2 separate regions of the Homo sapiens genome follow, and region 1 is linked to region 2. Evidence: fine-mapped expression QTL. A gene starts in region 2. The other region holds a variant in brackets. All regions are shown on one strand. Distances are between the middles of the regions. Region 1 has its middle 32 kb from the start of THBS4-AS1. Region 2 holds the start of THBS4-AS1 (THBS4 antisense RNA 1).

Evidence for each region. PIP is the estimated chance that this variant, and not a neighbour inherited with it, causes the effect.
Region 1: its variant is fine-mapped to the expression of THBS4-AS1 in blood mononuclear cells (TOPMed, PIP 0.93).

What each region holds. Positions count from the first base shown.
Region 1 is chr5:80,113,286-80,118,667 of GRCh38, reverse strand. It overlaps a transcript of SERINC5 not described here. Among named protein-coding and RNA genes, the nearest start is that of THBS4-AS1, 32 kb to the right of the region's middle. The variant A/G (reference allele first, on the strand shown) is at 2,163.
Region 2 is chr5:80,081,251-80,086,632 of GRCh38, reverse strand. It overlaps THBS4-AS1 (THBS4 antisense RNA 1), which reads left to right and starts at 2,968. Exons shown (of 8, transcript NR_109930.1): 1 at 2,968-3,133; 2 at 4,096-4,273. It overlaps THBS4 (thrombospondin 4), which reads right to left. Exons shown (of 22, transcript NM_003248.6): 21 at 4,088-4,227; 22 at 3,346-3,553. The coding sequence ends at 3,492. RefSeq lists an enhancer at 513-807 and silencers at 2,240-2,454, 3,570-3,659.

The DNA.
Region 1 (5,382 bases), 32 kb before region 2:
GCTGAGGTGGGAGGATCACTTGAGCCTGGGAGGCAGAGGTTTCAGCTAGCCAAAATTGTGCCACTGTACTCCATCCTGGGGGACAGAGTGAGACCCTGTCTCAAAAGAAAGAAAGAAAAAAAAGAGACTAGAAGCCTTATAAAAGGAAGAGAGATCCCTGGCCCCTTCCGCAATGAGGACATAGTTAAAAGACCTCACCAGACACTACAGCTTCCAGTGCCTTGATCTTGGACTTCCAAGCCTCCAGAACTGTGAGAAATAAATGTTTGTTGTTTGTAAGCTACCCAGCATCTGGTATTTTGTTATAGTTGCCTGAACAGTCTAAGATAGATGGTTCCCAAAAAGACGTCTACATCCTAATTTCCAGAACTGTAAATGTTAACTTTGCAGACGTAATGAAATTAGGGATCTTGATTTGAGGAGATCACCCTGGATTAGCCAAGTTATTATTATTATTTTTTTTTTGAGGTGGAGTCTTGCTCTGTCACCCAGGCTGGAGTGCAATGGTGTGATCTCAGTTCATTGCAACCTCCGCCTCCCAGTTTCAAGCAATTCTCTTGCCTCCACCTCCTGAGTAGCTGCAATTACAGGAGCCCGCCACCACGCCTGGCTAATTTTTGTATTTTTAGTAGAGATGGGGTTTCACCATGTTGACCAGGCTGGTCTCAAACCCCTGACCTCAAGTGATCTGCCCACCTCGGCCTCCCAACATGCTGGGATTACAGGCATGAGCCACCATGTCTGGCATGACAAGTGTTTTTATAAGAGACACACTGAGGAGAAAACAGACACAGATGAGATGATAAGAAGACTAGGTAGAAATTGGAGTGGTGCAGCTACAAGCCAAGGCATGCTGACAGCCACCCAAAGCTGGAAGAAGTAAGTAATAGATCACCCCCTAGATCCTTTGGAGGGAGCACAGCCCTGACAACATAGTACTTTCAGACTTCTGGTCTTCAGAACTGTGAGAGAGTAACTTTCTGTGTTGTAAATCACTGGTTTGTGGTCTTTTTTTTTTTTTTTTTCAGTAGCCACAGGAAGACTAGTACATTCTATTTGTTTTATAAGAGCAAAACCACAAGGCAGCATATAATTCAAGGCTGAAGGAGTGTGGCATGCTGACAGATGGTAAGAAAAGCTGAATGTCAGAGAAAGATACCAAATCCAGTCAGTGGCTCTGTGTGATTATCAGTTAGTATGTGTCCTTTTCTCTTGTGTCCAACTTACATCATCACCATCACCTATTATTGAGCACTTAATATGTGCTAGGTACCAAGCTAAGTGCTTTGCCTAGATCACCTCAGTTAAGCCTCGCACTAATTCTATGAGGTAGGTGCCAATATTTGCCTATTTTACAAATGAGGAAACTGAGGCTCAGAGAGGTGAGGTCCCATCTGCAGTTGGACTGTGAGTAAACGGCAGAGTGAGGACCAGAACTCAAGTGTGTCTTACTGCAGAGTCTTGGCTTACGCAGTTCCTAGCCATCTTCCGTGTTAGTTTGTTCTTCTGCATATAGTCATTGTAGTTAAGAGCTCTGGGCCAGGCATGGTGGCTCACACCTGTAATCCCAGCACTTTGGGAGGCTGAGGCGGGCGGATCGCCTGAGATCGGGAGTTTGAGACCAGCCTGGCCAACATGGCGAAACCCCGTCTCTACTAAAAAACACAAAAAATTAGATGGGCCTGGTGGCACTCGCCTGTAATCCCAGCTACTTGGGAGGCTGAGGCAGGAGAATCAGTTGAACCTGGGAGTCAGAGGTTGCAGTGAGCCGAGATTGTGTCAGTATACTCCAGCCTGGGCGAGAGAGCAAGACCCCGTCTAAAAAAAAAAAAAAGAGCTCTCCAGTTTCTGGTCACCAGAAAGTCACTTGAGCCAGTGGGGGTGGAATGAGGCCTGGCTCTATGAACCTGAGTCGTCTAGTGTAGGACATCCCCCTCCAGGCCAGAGCAGCCTGCCTCTGTGGATGTTTGTTAATGAACGAGTGAACATATGGTTGGGCTGCCAGCAGAGCTCTGCCTATCTCAGGGCCACAGGAGGCATTTATGTCATCCTCTTGGTAGGTATGCCACTAGCGTCTGAGCTCAGTTACTGAGCTTCTTCCCACTGAGGAGAAAAGGCAGGTAAGCCTGGCTCTCACTCTCTGCCTCACCCACTAAGCCTGG[A/G]GAGTGGGGAAGGAGGGGTATGGAGATTATAGCATGCAAGTCCCAGGGAAGGGAACGGAGAAAATGGACTGAAGTTTCTGATAAGGTTCATAGTGATCTGGATGGCCTGGGCCTGTCCCATTCTCTGTCCAGGAAGAGGAAGGGAACACAAGGTGAGATTTTGATTTCTATTTTGTTCCCAGAAACTATCAATGCTGAAGACTTAAGGCCTCTTAAGAATACCCTTTTTGCAAGAGGGGATGGAAACATCTCTGGCCCCAACTCCGACAGGAAAGCCTGGTTTTAGCATTGAAAAGATGATTGAATACAGCTTGCCTTTTCTCCAGGGAAGAGAGACAAGATGGAGTGCCAGAGAGGCCTACGGCAAGGTGCCTATTTTTGCATTGCTGCAGCAACGTGGAGGCTTTCTGCCCTGCCTCACACCCCTCATCCATCAGCCCCAGCCTTCCCCATCATGGTTCTCTCAGATGAGGCCTGATTGTTGATTTCTTTCACGTGTGTGTGGAATTAACATCTTCTATCCCTTTCAATGTTGAATTAACTTAGTGACGAACTCATTAAGGACTCCTTATCAAGGCTTTCCCTCCTTTCTATAATTTTATCCATTGTCAGCTTTGACAGAAATCCCACTGAAGGTTTGTCAAAGAGCCATTGAAGAGTTCTAAGTGGTCTTGCTTGCAGAGGGCAACTGCACTTGACCTCTATTTATACTTTTTGTAGTACTCTTGCCTGGACTCAGAGATGCAACTGGGATTGAAATTATATTTACCAAACATCAACATATTGATGTTAGACCTTAAAAGAAGAAAACGTAAAACAGCATACAGTCTTTTTGCAGTAAACAGTAAACTCAGGAAATTTTTATTCATTGATTCCTTCCTTCAACAAAATTATGGTTAAGAATACCTGCTATTTGTCAAATTCTAAGATTATGAAATAGAACAAATTCTACCCTCAACTTACTCAAAGTCTAGACAGGGAAGCAGAAAATAGCAAATAATTACTATATGTTGTGATATGTACCACAGCCTGAAGAGAAATATACTGAAAACTGAGAATTCAAAAAAGATTGAATTAATAGTTGGTGGGTTCATAATAAGCAACTACAGTAAATGAGGAATATTAGAGGGTTATTCTGAACCTGCTAAGGTCATTGGAGAGACAACCTTGGATGATAGGTCTGGTTCCTGGGTGGGTTTTGAGCAAGGCTTGGGCTGGACCTGGGGTGCATTTGAGCTATACCGTGTGCCCCCAGTTTCACCCTAGCAGTGATGGTCCTTGGCAGCAGTTTATCTGCTTTATTTCTCCCCACCCATTTTTATAGTAAAACGTCTGCTAAAAATGATGTCAGTAAAAGCAGTCGCTATAGTGAAGTTGAATGTCATTTCTGGGACACTGGGTGTGTAACAGTTGCATGTAGGGAGTGGGTGGCTCCACTTTCCCTAATCAAAGACAGGGAAGTCCTGGCATTGAGCCAGGAGGGTTGGGCAACTGGATTGGGCGGCAGAAAATCAGTCATTGTCTCTGCCTTTTCCCTGGTTTATGGAGTGTCACAGATCCAGAGACACACATTTCTTGTCTATAAAATGGGAATAATGTTTGCTTCCACCTTACTCATTTAAAAACATTTCTTACAATTCCTAGTCAGAGTTATTTGTCAAAAAGCTTTTGTGGGTGGTGATATGGTTTGGCCCTGTGTCCCCACCCAAATCTCATCTCAAATTGTAATCCCCCCATGTTGTGGGAGGGACCTGGTGGGAGTGATTGGATCATGAAGGCGGTTTCCCCAATGCTGTTCTTGTGATGGTGAGGGAGTTCTCACAAGATCTGACCTTTTTTTTTTTTTTTTTTGAGATGGAGTCCCACTCTGTTGCCCAGGCTGGAGTACAGTGGCATGATCTTGGCTCACTGCAACCTCCACCTCCCAGATGTCAAGCGATTCTCTTGCCTCAGCCTCCCAAGTAGCTGGGGTTACAGGCATGTGCCACCATGGTGAGCTAATTTTTGTATTTTTAGTGGTGATGGGGTTTTACCATGTTGGCCAGGCTGGTCTCGAACTCCTGACCTCAAGTGATCTGCCTGCCTCAACCTCCCAAAGTGCTGGGATTATAGGTGTGAGCCACTGCACCCAGCCGTGATCTGATGATTTAAGAGTGGCAGTTTCTTCTACATGCTCTTTCTCTTCTGCTGCCTTGTAAGATGTGCCTTGCTTCCCCTTCACCTTCTGCCATGATTGTAAGTTTCCTGAGGCCTCCCCAGCCATGCAGAACTGTGAGTCAATTAAACCTCCTTTCTTTATAAATTACCCAGTCTCAGGTAGTCTTTATAGCAGTATGAAAACAGACTAATACAGACGGCCAACATTTTGGTTAGGTGAAGACGTTTAGCTTTCAGTTGTTTGTTTGGGCCCACTCCTTGTAACTTAGCATGGAGACGGTGCTGAAGAAATGGGGCTAGGGCAGGTCATTGTTAATTGAGGGAAGGATCCTGGGAACATCGGGTTATCTTGAGGACACCCAGAGATGGGAGTGTGAATGGAAGTACCCAGAGTCTGGCAGCAAAGGCACCAGGCCTGGGGAGCCTCGCCCACAGGCATGGGTGGGGGGGCACACAGCATGGCAGAGGTTATGGGTGGGTGCCATCAGGTGGTGATGCATGATATAGTTTGGCTGTGTCCCCACCCAAATCTCAACTTGAATTGTATCTCCCAGAATTCCCACATGTTGTGGGAGGGGGCCAGGGTGAGGTAATTGAATCATGGGGGCCGGTCTTTCTCGTGCTATTCTTGTGATAGTGAATAAGTCTCATGAGAGCTGATGGGTTTATCAGGGTTTTCTGCTTTTGCTTCTCCCTCTTTTTCTCTTGCTGCTGCCATGTAAGAAGTGCCTTTCACCTCCTGCCATGATTCTGAGGCCTCCCCAGCCATGTGGAACTGTAAGTCCAATTAAACCTCTTTTTCTTCCCAGTCTCTGGTATGTCTTTATCAGCAGCATGAAAACAAACTAATACAATGCATATCCCCTCGTTCCCCATCCTTGCTCTCCTGAAAATGAGAGCACTGAGGATGTGTCCAGACCCGTCACAGAAGAAACATGAATGGCTATGCCACTCAGAAAAAAATGTTCAGCCACACGAGAGTCAAGCAGAATGCAGACTAGAAATGATACTAGTTTTACCTACCAAATTGGGAAAAAATAAAAGAAGATAATGGACAATGCTG
Region 2 (5,382 bases):
TTCTCTGGAATAAAACACCCTCACCCACTGTGGAAACTATACTGCCCCAGGAAATTTGGGGTGAGCGTCTCTGTCTCCTGAGGTTGCCTATGACCAAATTGGGCGGGGCTGTAAGATGCGGAGCTGTGGACACTGCAGGGGGTTTCTTCATGCCACTGAAAGGTTGAGCCACCCTTACAGTCCCGATGTTACTGGGGACCCCAGGCGTGTATCCCAAACAGGGGCACCCCACCTCTCACCCCTAGATTTATGCTGTACAGTATCTAGTTTGCCCACGGCCTCACTTCTGGACCAGATTCTTTTTTGCTGCTTGAGTCTGTTCCCAGTTATCTTCTAGCCTAGGCAATAAAAAATGCCTACAGATGTTTCAATAGCAGGTGGCTGGATTCTATATCTTCCTCATTCTCTTTAACTCTATAGCCTGTCTCCAAAATTAACCTAAGGATAATCACCATAATACTTCTGGAGCCTAGGACTAATAACCTGGATGGGGAGAAGGAAGAGTTTTTTTTTCCTTTTTCTTGAGTGTAGGCAAAAAGGGCTGCACATCCCTTTGTGCACCTGCTCCCATGCCCCCAGGCCTCCTCTGGCTGCCCCCAGTGCCCTCATCCTGCCCCCAGAGATCTCCCACACTTCCCGTGGGATTCTACTCAGCCATGATCTTTTCCCTACAGTGACAATGCCTCTTTTCTTTCCCAGCCACGCCTCCCATTCCCCCACAGTGACAATGCCTCTTTTCTTTCCCAGCCACGCCTCCCATTCCCCCAGTACTTAAAAAAAAAAAAAAAAAGTGAGACAGGATCTTGCTATGTTGCCCATGCTGGACTTGAACTCCTGGGCTCAAGTGATCCTCCCCATTCAGCCTCCCAGGTAGCCAGGACCACAGGTGCACACCACCATGCCCAGCTCCTCAGTCTTCTCGATCTCCATGAAAAGTCAGGAGGTGAATGGGCATTGGAATGAATTCATACTAGTTGGTGAGAGACTGATGGCCACTCAGTCCTAGAGGTGTAAGATTCAAATGAGGCTCTTACTAACCTAATGGAACTGTAATAGGAATTTGAGTCATTGTGCTAAGGTTGAGTATAACAAGTATCCAAGAAGCCCAGGGAGTTACCTGGGGGAGAGCATACCACACCTGCTAGCTCATCCCGTCAGTCTGCAACTGGCTAGCTTCTCTCAAGTGCTTCCTGATTTTCACTTTTTTTTTTTTTTGTTTTTGTTTTTGGAGACACGTCTTGCTCTGTCGCCCAGGCTGGAGTGCAGTGGCACGATCTCAGCTCACTGCAACCTCCGCCTCCCGGGTTCAAGAGATTCTTGTGCTTCAGCCACCTGAGGAGCTGGGAGTATAGGCAGGAGCCACTGCACCTGGCCTAATTTTTGTATTTTTAGTAGAGATGGGGTTTTACCATGTTGGCCAGACTGGTCCCAAACTCCTGACCTCAAGCGATCCTCCCACCTAGGCCTCCCAAAGTGCTAGGATTACAGGTGTGAGCCATAGCACCCCACCCATTTTCACTTTTCTTACTTCATTTCTTATGCAAGAAATTTTCTGAAAGCCTCAAGTTTTCTACATCAGCTTCAAAAATATAAGGAGGGCCAACTAGGAATAGGACAAGGTAGAATAATCACTTGTGTGCTGATAAATATTTAACAACCAGTTCTCTGGAGCCCTGATTTGTAGTGTTTGCCAGTTTCTGTGTAAATACTCCCACCATGGCCAATTTCAAACTACCAACCGTTTAACTGGCTCACAATATTCCTAAAACTTGAATAGTTGGCTCTTATGAGCTGGTAGGAGTTGGCTTCAGCACACTGCTGGTTCTACATGCGTCTTTGTTTCTTGTTTTGCATAAATAACAAGTTTTGTCTTCCCAAAAATGTAATAAGCTCCCTAAGGGATGGAATTATGTTCTGGATCTCCTGTGGGCCCATGGTTTCTAAAATAGTTATAGACACAAAAGATTTAACCAAGAGAGTCTGTTTCCTGTGGACATACTGCGTTCTTGGGCTTGCACAGCCGACAACAGGGAGGCTGCCCCAGGGGTGGGCATGGTGTGGGTTGCTGCCTCCTTTCACCAGCCTCACTCTCATTGCCCAGGCTGGAGTACAGTGGTGCAATCTCTGCTCACTGCAGCCTCTGCCTCCCCAGCTCAAGTGATTCTCCCACTTCAACCTCCCAAATAGCTGGGACTATAGGCAAGTGGCACCACACCTGGCTAATTTTTGTATTTTTAGTAGAGATGGGTTTCGCCACGTTGGCCAGGCTGGTCTTGAACTCCTGGCCTCAAGTGATCTGCCTGCCTTGGCCTCCCAAAGTGCTTGGGACCACAGGCAAGTGCCACCACACCTGGCCCCATTGGAGTTTTTGATGTAGGAGATCAGATGTCCTGGATTACAAGGCCACACACATCTCCAGGCTGTACATGAGAGGAGGATGTCCAGAAATCCTCCAGATCTCATGCATGCACCATTGTATTTTCTCACTGTTAAAGTCATGATAAAACTGTGGTGTTTTTTTCTTCATACATGATTTAATATATCTCTAGGAATTCTGGAATAAGAAAATATATAACCGCACAGCAATATTCTTTGAAACAAAATTTCTAGAGAATTTATAAAAATTTGCTTGGATCTTGATTTACAATTGAAATACAAGAAAGGCTAGTGTACAAATTAGGCAAGTTTCTGTGCTGTACATCCAGCTACTGGTACCACAAATAGAGGATATGTTGTGACTTTTTGAGTTGAGGAGGACTTTTATGATCATGTACACTCTACTGTCCTTTAAGAGGCATTCATTCATTCATTCTTCGTTTATTAATTCAGTAAACATTTACTGGCTATTTACTACATTCCAGGTACTGTGGGGATATTGATTGTAATGACATGATCCTTTATTGTCAATATGCTTACAGTCCACTAGGGGGAGCCAAATATATAAATAAGCTTAAGAATTACGTTGAAGGGGCCAGAATAGAAGTCTGTGGAAGGTGTGGGATGGGATGACAGCATCAGAAAGAATTGGGCAAATCTGTCCCAGGACTAGGTCAGAAAAACGCCTCCCTAGGGAAGGTGCCACCCCAAACACGTGTTTCTGAGACCCCTTACCCGAAATAAGGAGGCTGCCAAGGTGAGCATGGAACGGTTAGGCGTTTTGTATGGAGCAAACTGGGGGGACCCCAGCTGAGACCTCTGGCCTGGGCCTTGTGATTCACGCATAGGCTCATCTTATCGGCCACCGGGTCTGAGAAGAAACTACCACCCTGCAAGTTAACAGGGATCCCTCCGAGAACGGGCACCTCAAAGCCTGAGCCACGTGAGAGCAATGTCTGAGCAACACGGTTTTTAAAAATGATCTCTTCTCCTTTATTGCCACATTCACATAAAACGTTTTGATATATTTGGGTTGGTAAAAGCTAAAGAAAATTGAAGTTAAAATATATATGGTTTTAGTGTTCCGAAAAGCAGTTACAGATTGCTTCCTTGGTTTAATTATCGAAGCGGTCGAAATTCTGGGTTTGAAACTCTTGGAAGTCCTCAGGGATGGTGTCTGCAATAGGAATGGGCACAGGGAGGTTAGCGAGGCTCCTTCCACCCCGGACCCCGGACCCCCGCCCGCGGCTCAGGCGTCCTGTAGGGGGCGCTGTTAGCCCGCCCAGGACGCCCCGCAGGCCCTCGCCGCCATTTTCTCCTGCAGGCTGCTTTGCAAACCGTTGGCTTAAAGCCCAGGAGTGCTCCTTCCCGGCCGTGCAGAAAATCAGCAGGCAGAATGGATTTTGCATCTGTGATTATGTTTTAACCACATGAAAATAAAGGCTTCCTGTAAATTAAATCTGACTGGATTTCTCACTGAACCCCAAACCCTAAACCATGCAGTTAAATTCTATGGGTCTTAATTTCCACATGGATAAAATAGGATAAATGTGATCTGCTTTTTACTTCTGGTACACAGGGACTATCAGGTTTTAATGACTATGTGGTATGAGCGTTGGGCTTTTGGGGGGGAAGTGCGGTATAAAAATAAGGTGGCAGTGTTTGACTAATTCTAGTAACAATGTTGAACAGTAACGAGAATGCACATTACCATTGCAGCGATACTTGAGGTTGGACCAGATGATGTTTTCTTGAGAGAAGCAGAAAACGCCAAGTCGGCCTCCACGCATTGTGGTGTCTATGGTGACGCCAGAGTCAGCCACCAACTCAGAGCCTTCATAAAATCGTACCCTGCGGACAACACGGCCGGAGGGGCCTCCATGAAATCCAACCCGGGGTAAAGTGCCCACTGTGAGGCCCAGGGGCCCCACTTCTTATACGTACCTGCGTCTTTCTTTGCTCTGTTTTAGGCTCCATTTTTCGCTGACCTGGATTGTACTGTAGCTGTTGCCACTTACTTACTAGACTGGAAGTCCTTGAGGGCAGGGACCGTGTGTGTCCGTGTGTGTGTGGAGGGGGGTGGGGGGTGTTTCTTCCCAACTTCTGTCTCTCACAAGGCCTAACATGATGTTGGTCACACTATCAAACTTGAGTTAAAAATCAAACCAAACCAAACCTGCTATCTTGAGTGAGAAAGTTTTGTGTCTTATTGTCATGTGAGTTGCCTTGTCTAGATACCATGCTTAAAAACTTTGGCTTTTCCTTTGGTCTGATTTATATCTTTTGGTGGAATCTCAGAGCAATGATTCTCCACAGGAGACAGCACTCCCTAAGTAGAGTTGGAGGAATCTGTGGGGACACTTTGGGTTGTCACAGTGGCACTGAGTGATGGCAGCCAGGGATGCTGGATGGCGAGCAATGCCCTGGCGAGAACAATCAAAACCTGTCCTGCATTCCATACACTTCTGGAGTGTTCCTCAGACACCAGGGTAGGTAAAGAGCAACTATCAGGGCCTAGAACCTGACTCACTTTCACTTGTAAACAGCAAGTATATTTTGCACAAATTTTAATATAAACTATATTTTCCAGGGTAAATTGAGAAAATTTGTTTGAAAATTAACATTCTAAAATGTGTACCATTTGAGAAATTTACATTGCTGTCATCAACCAGTGTAACAAACATTTAAGTCACTGACACAACAGTCTGTTAGAATGTCACCTTCGTAGTGATTCTAGGCATGGGTGCAAGTGTCTGTTTCATTTTGTCTTCTGGTGTGGCTGTGCTCAAATATTTAAATTATTTTGTTATAAATTATTCTTATTTCTCTATGATATTGTTAGGGCTCACATTGATTTTCTAGATTATACGTGTAGGTAGGTTGTAATTTCTATGATTCCATTTTGGGACGGAAAAGGGGGCATTTCAAAATATTTATAATAAAAAAGGGGCATTGGGCTTAATAGGGCTGAGAACATGATCATCTCACTGTGAGACAAAAAGAGTA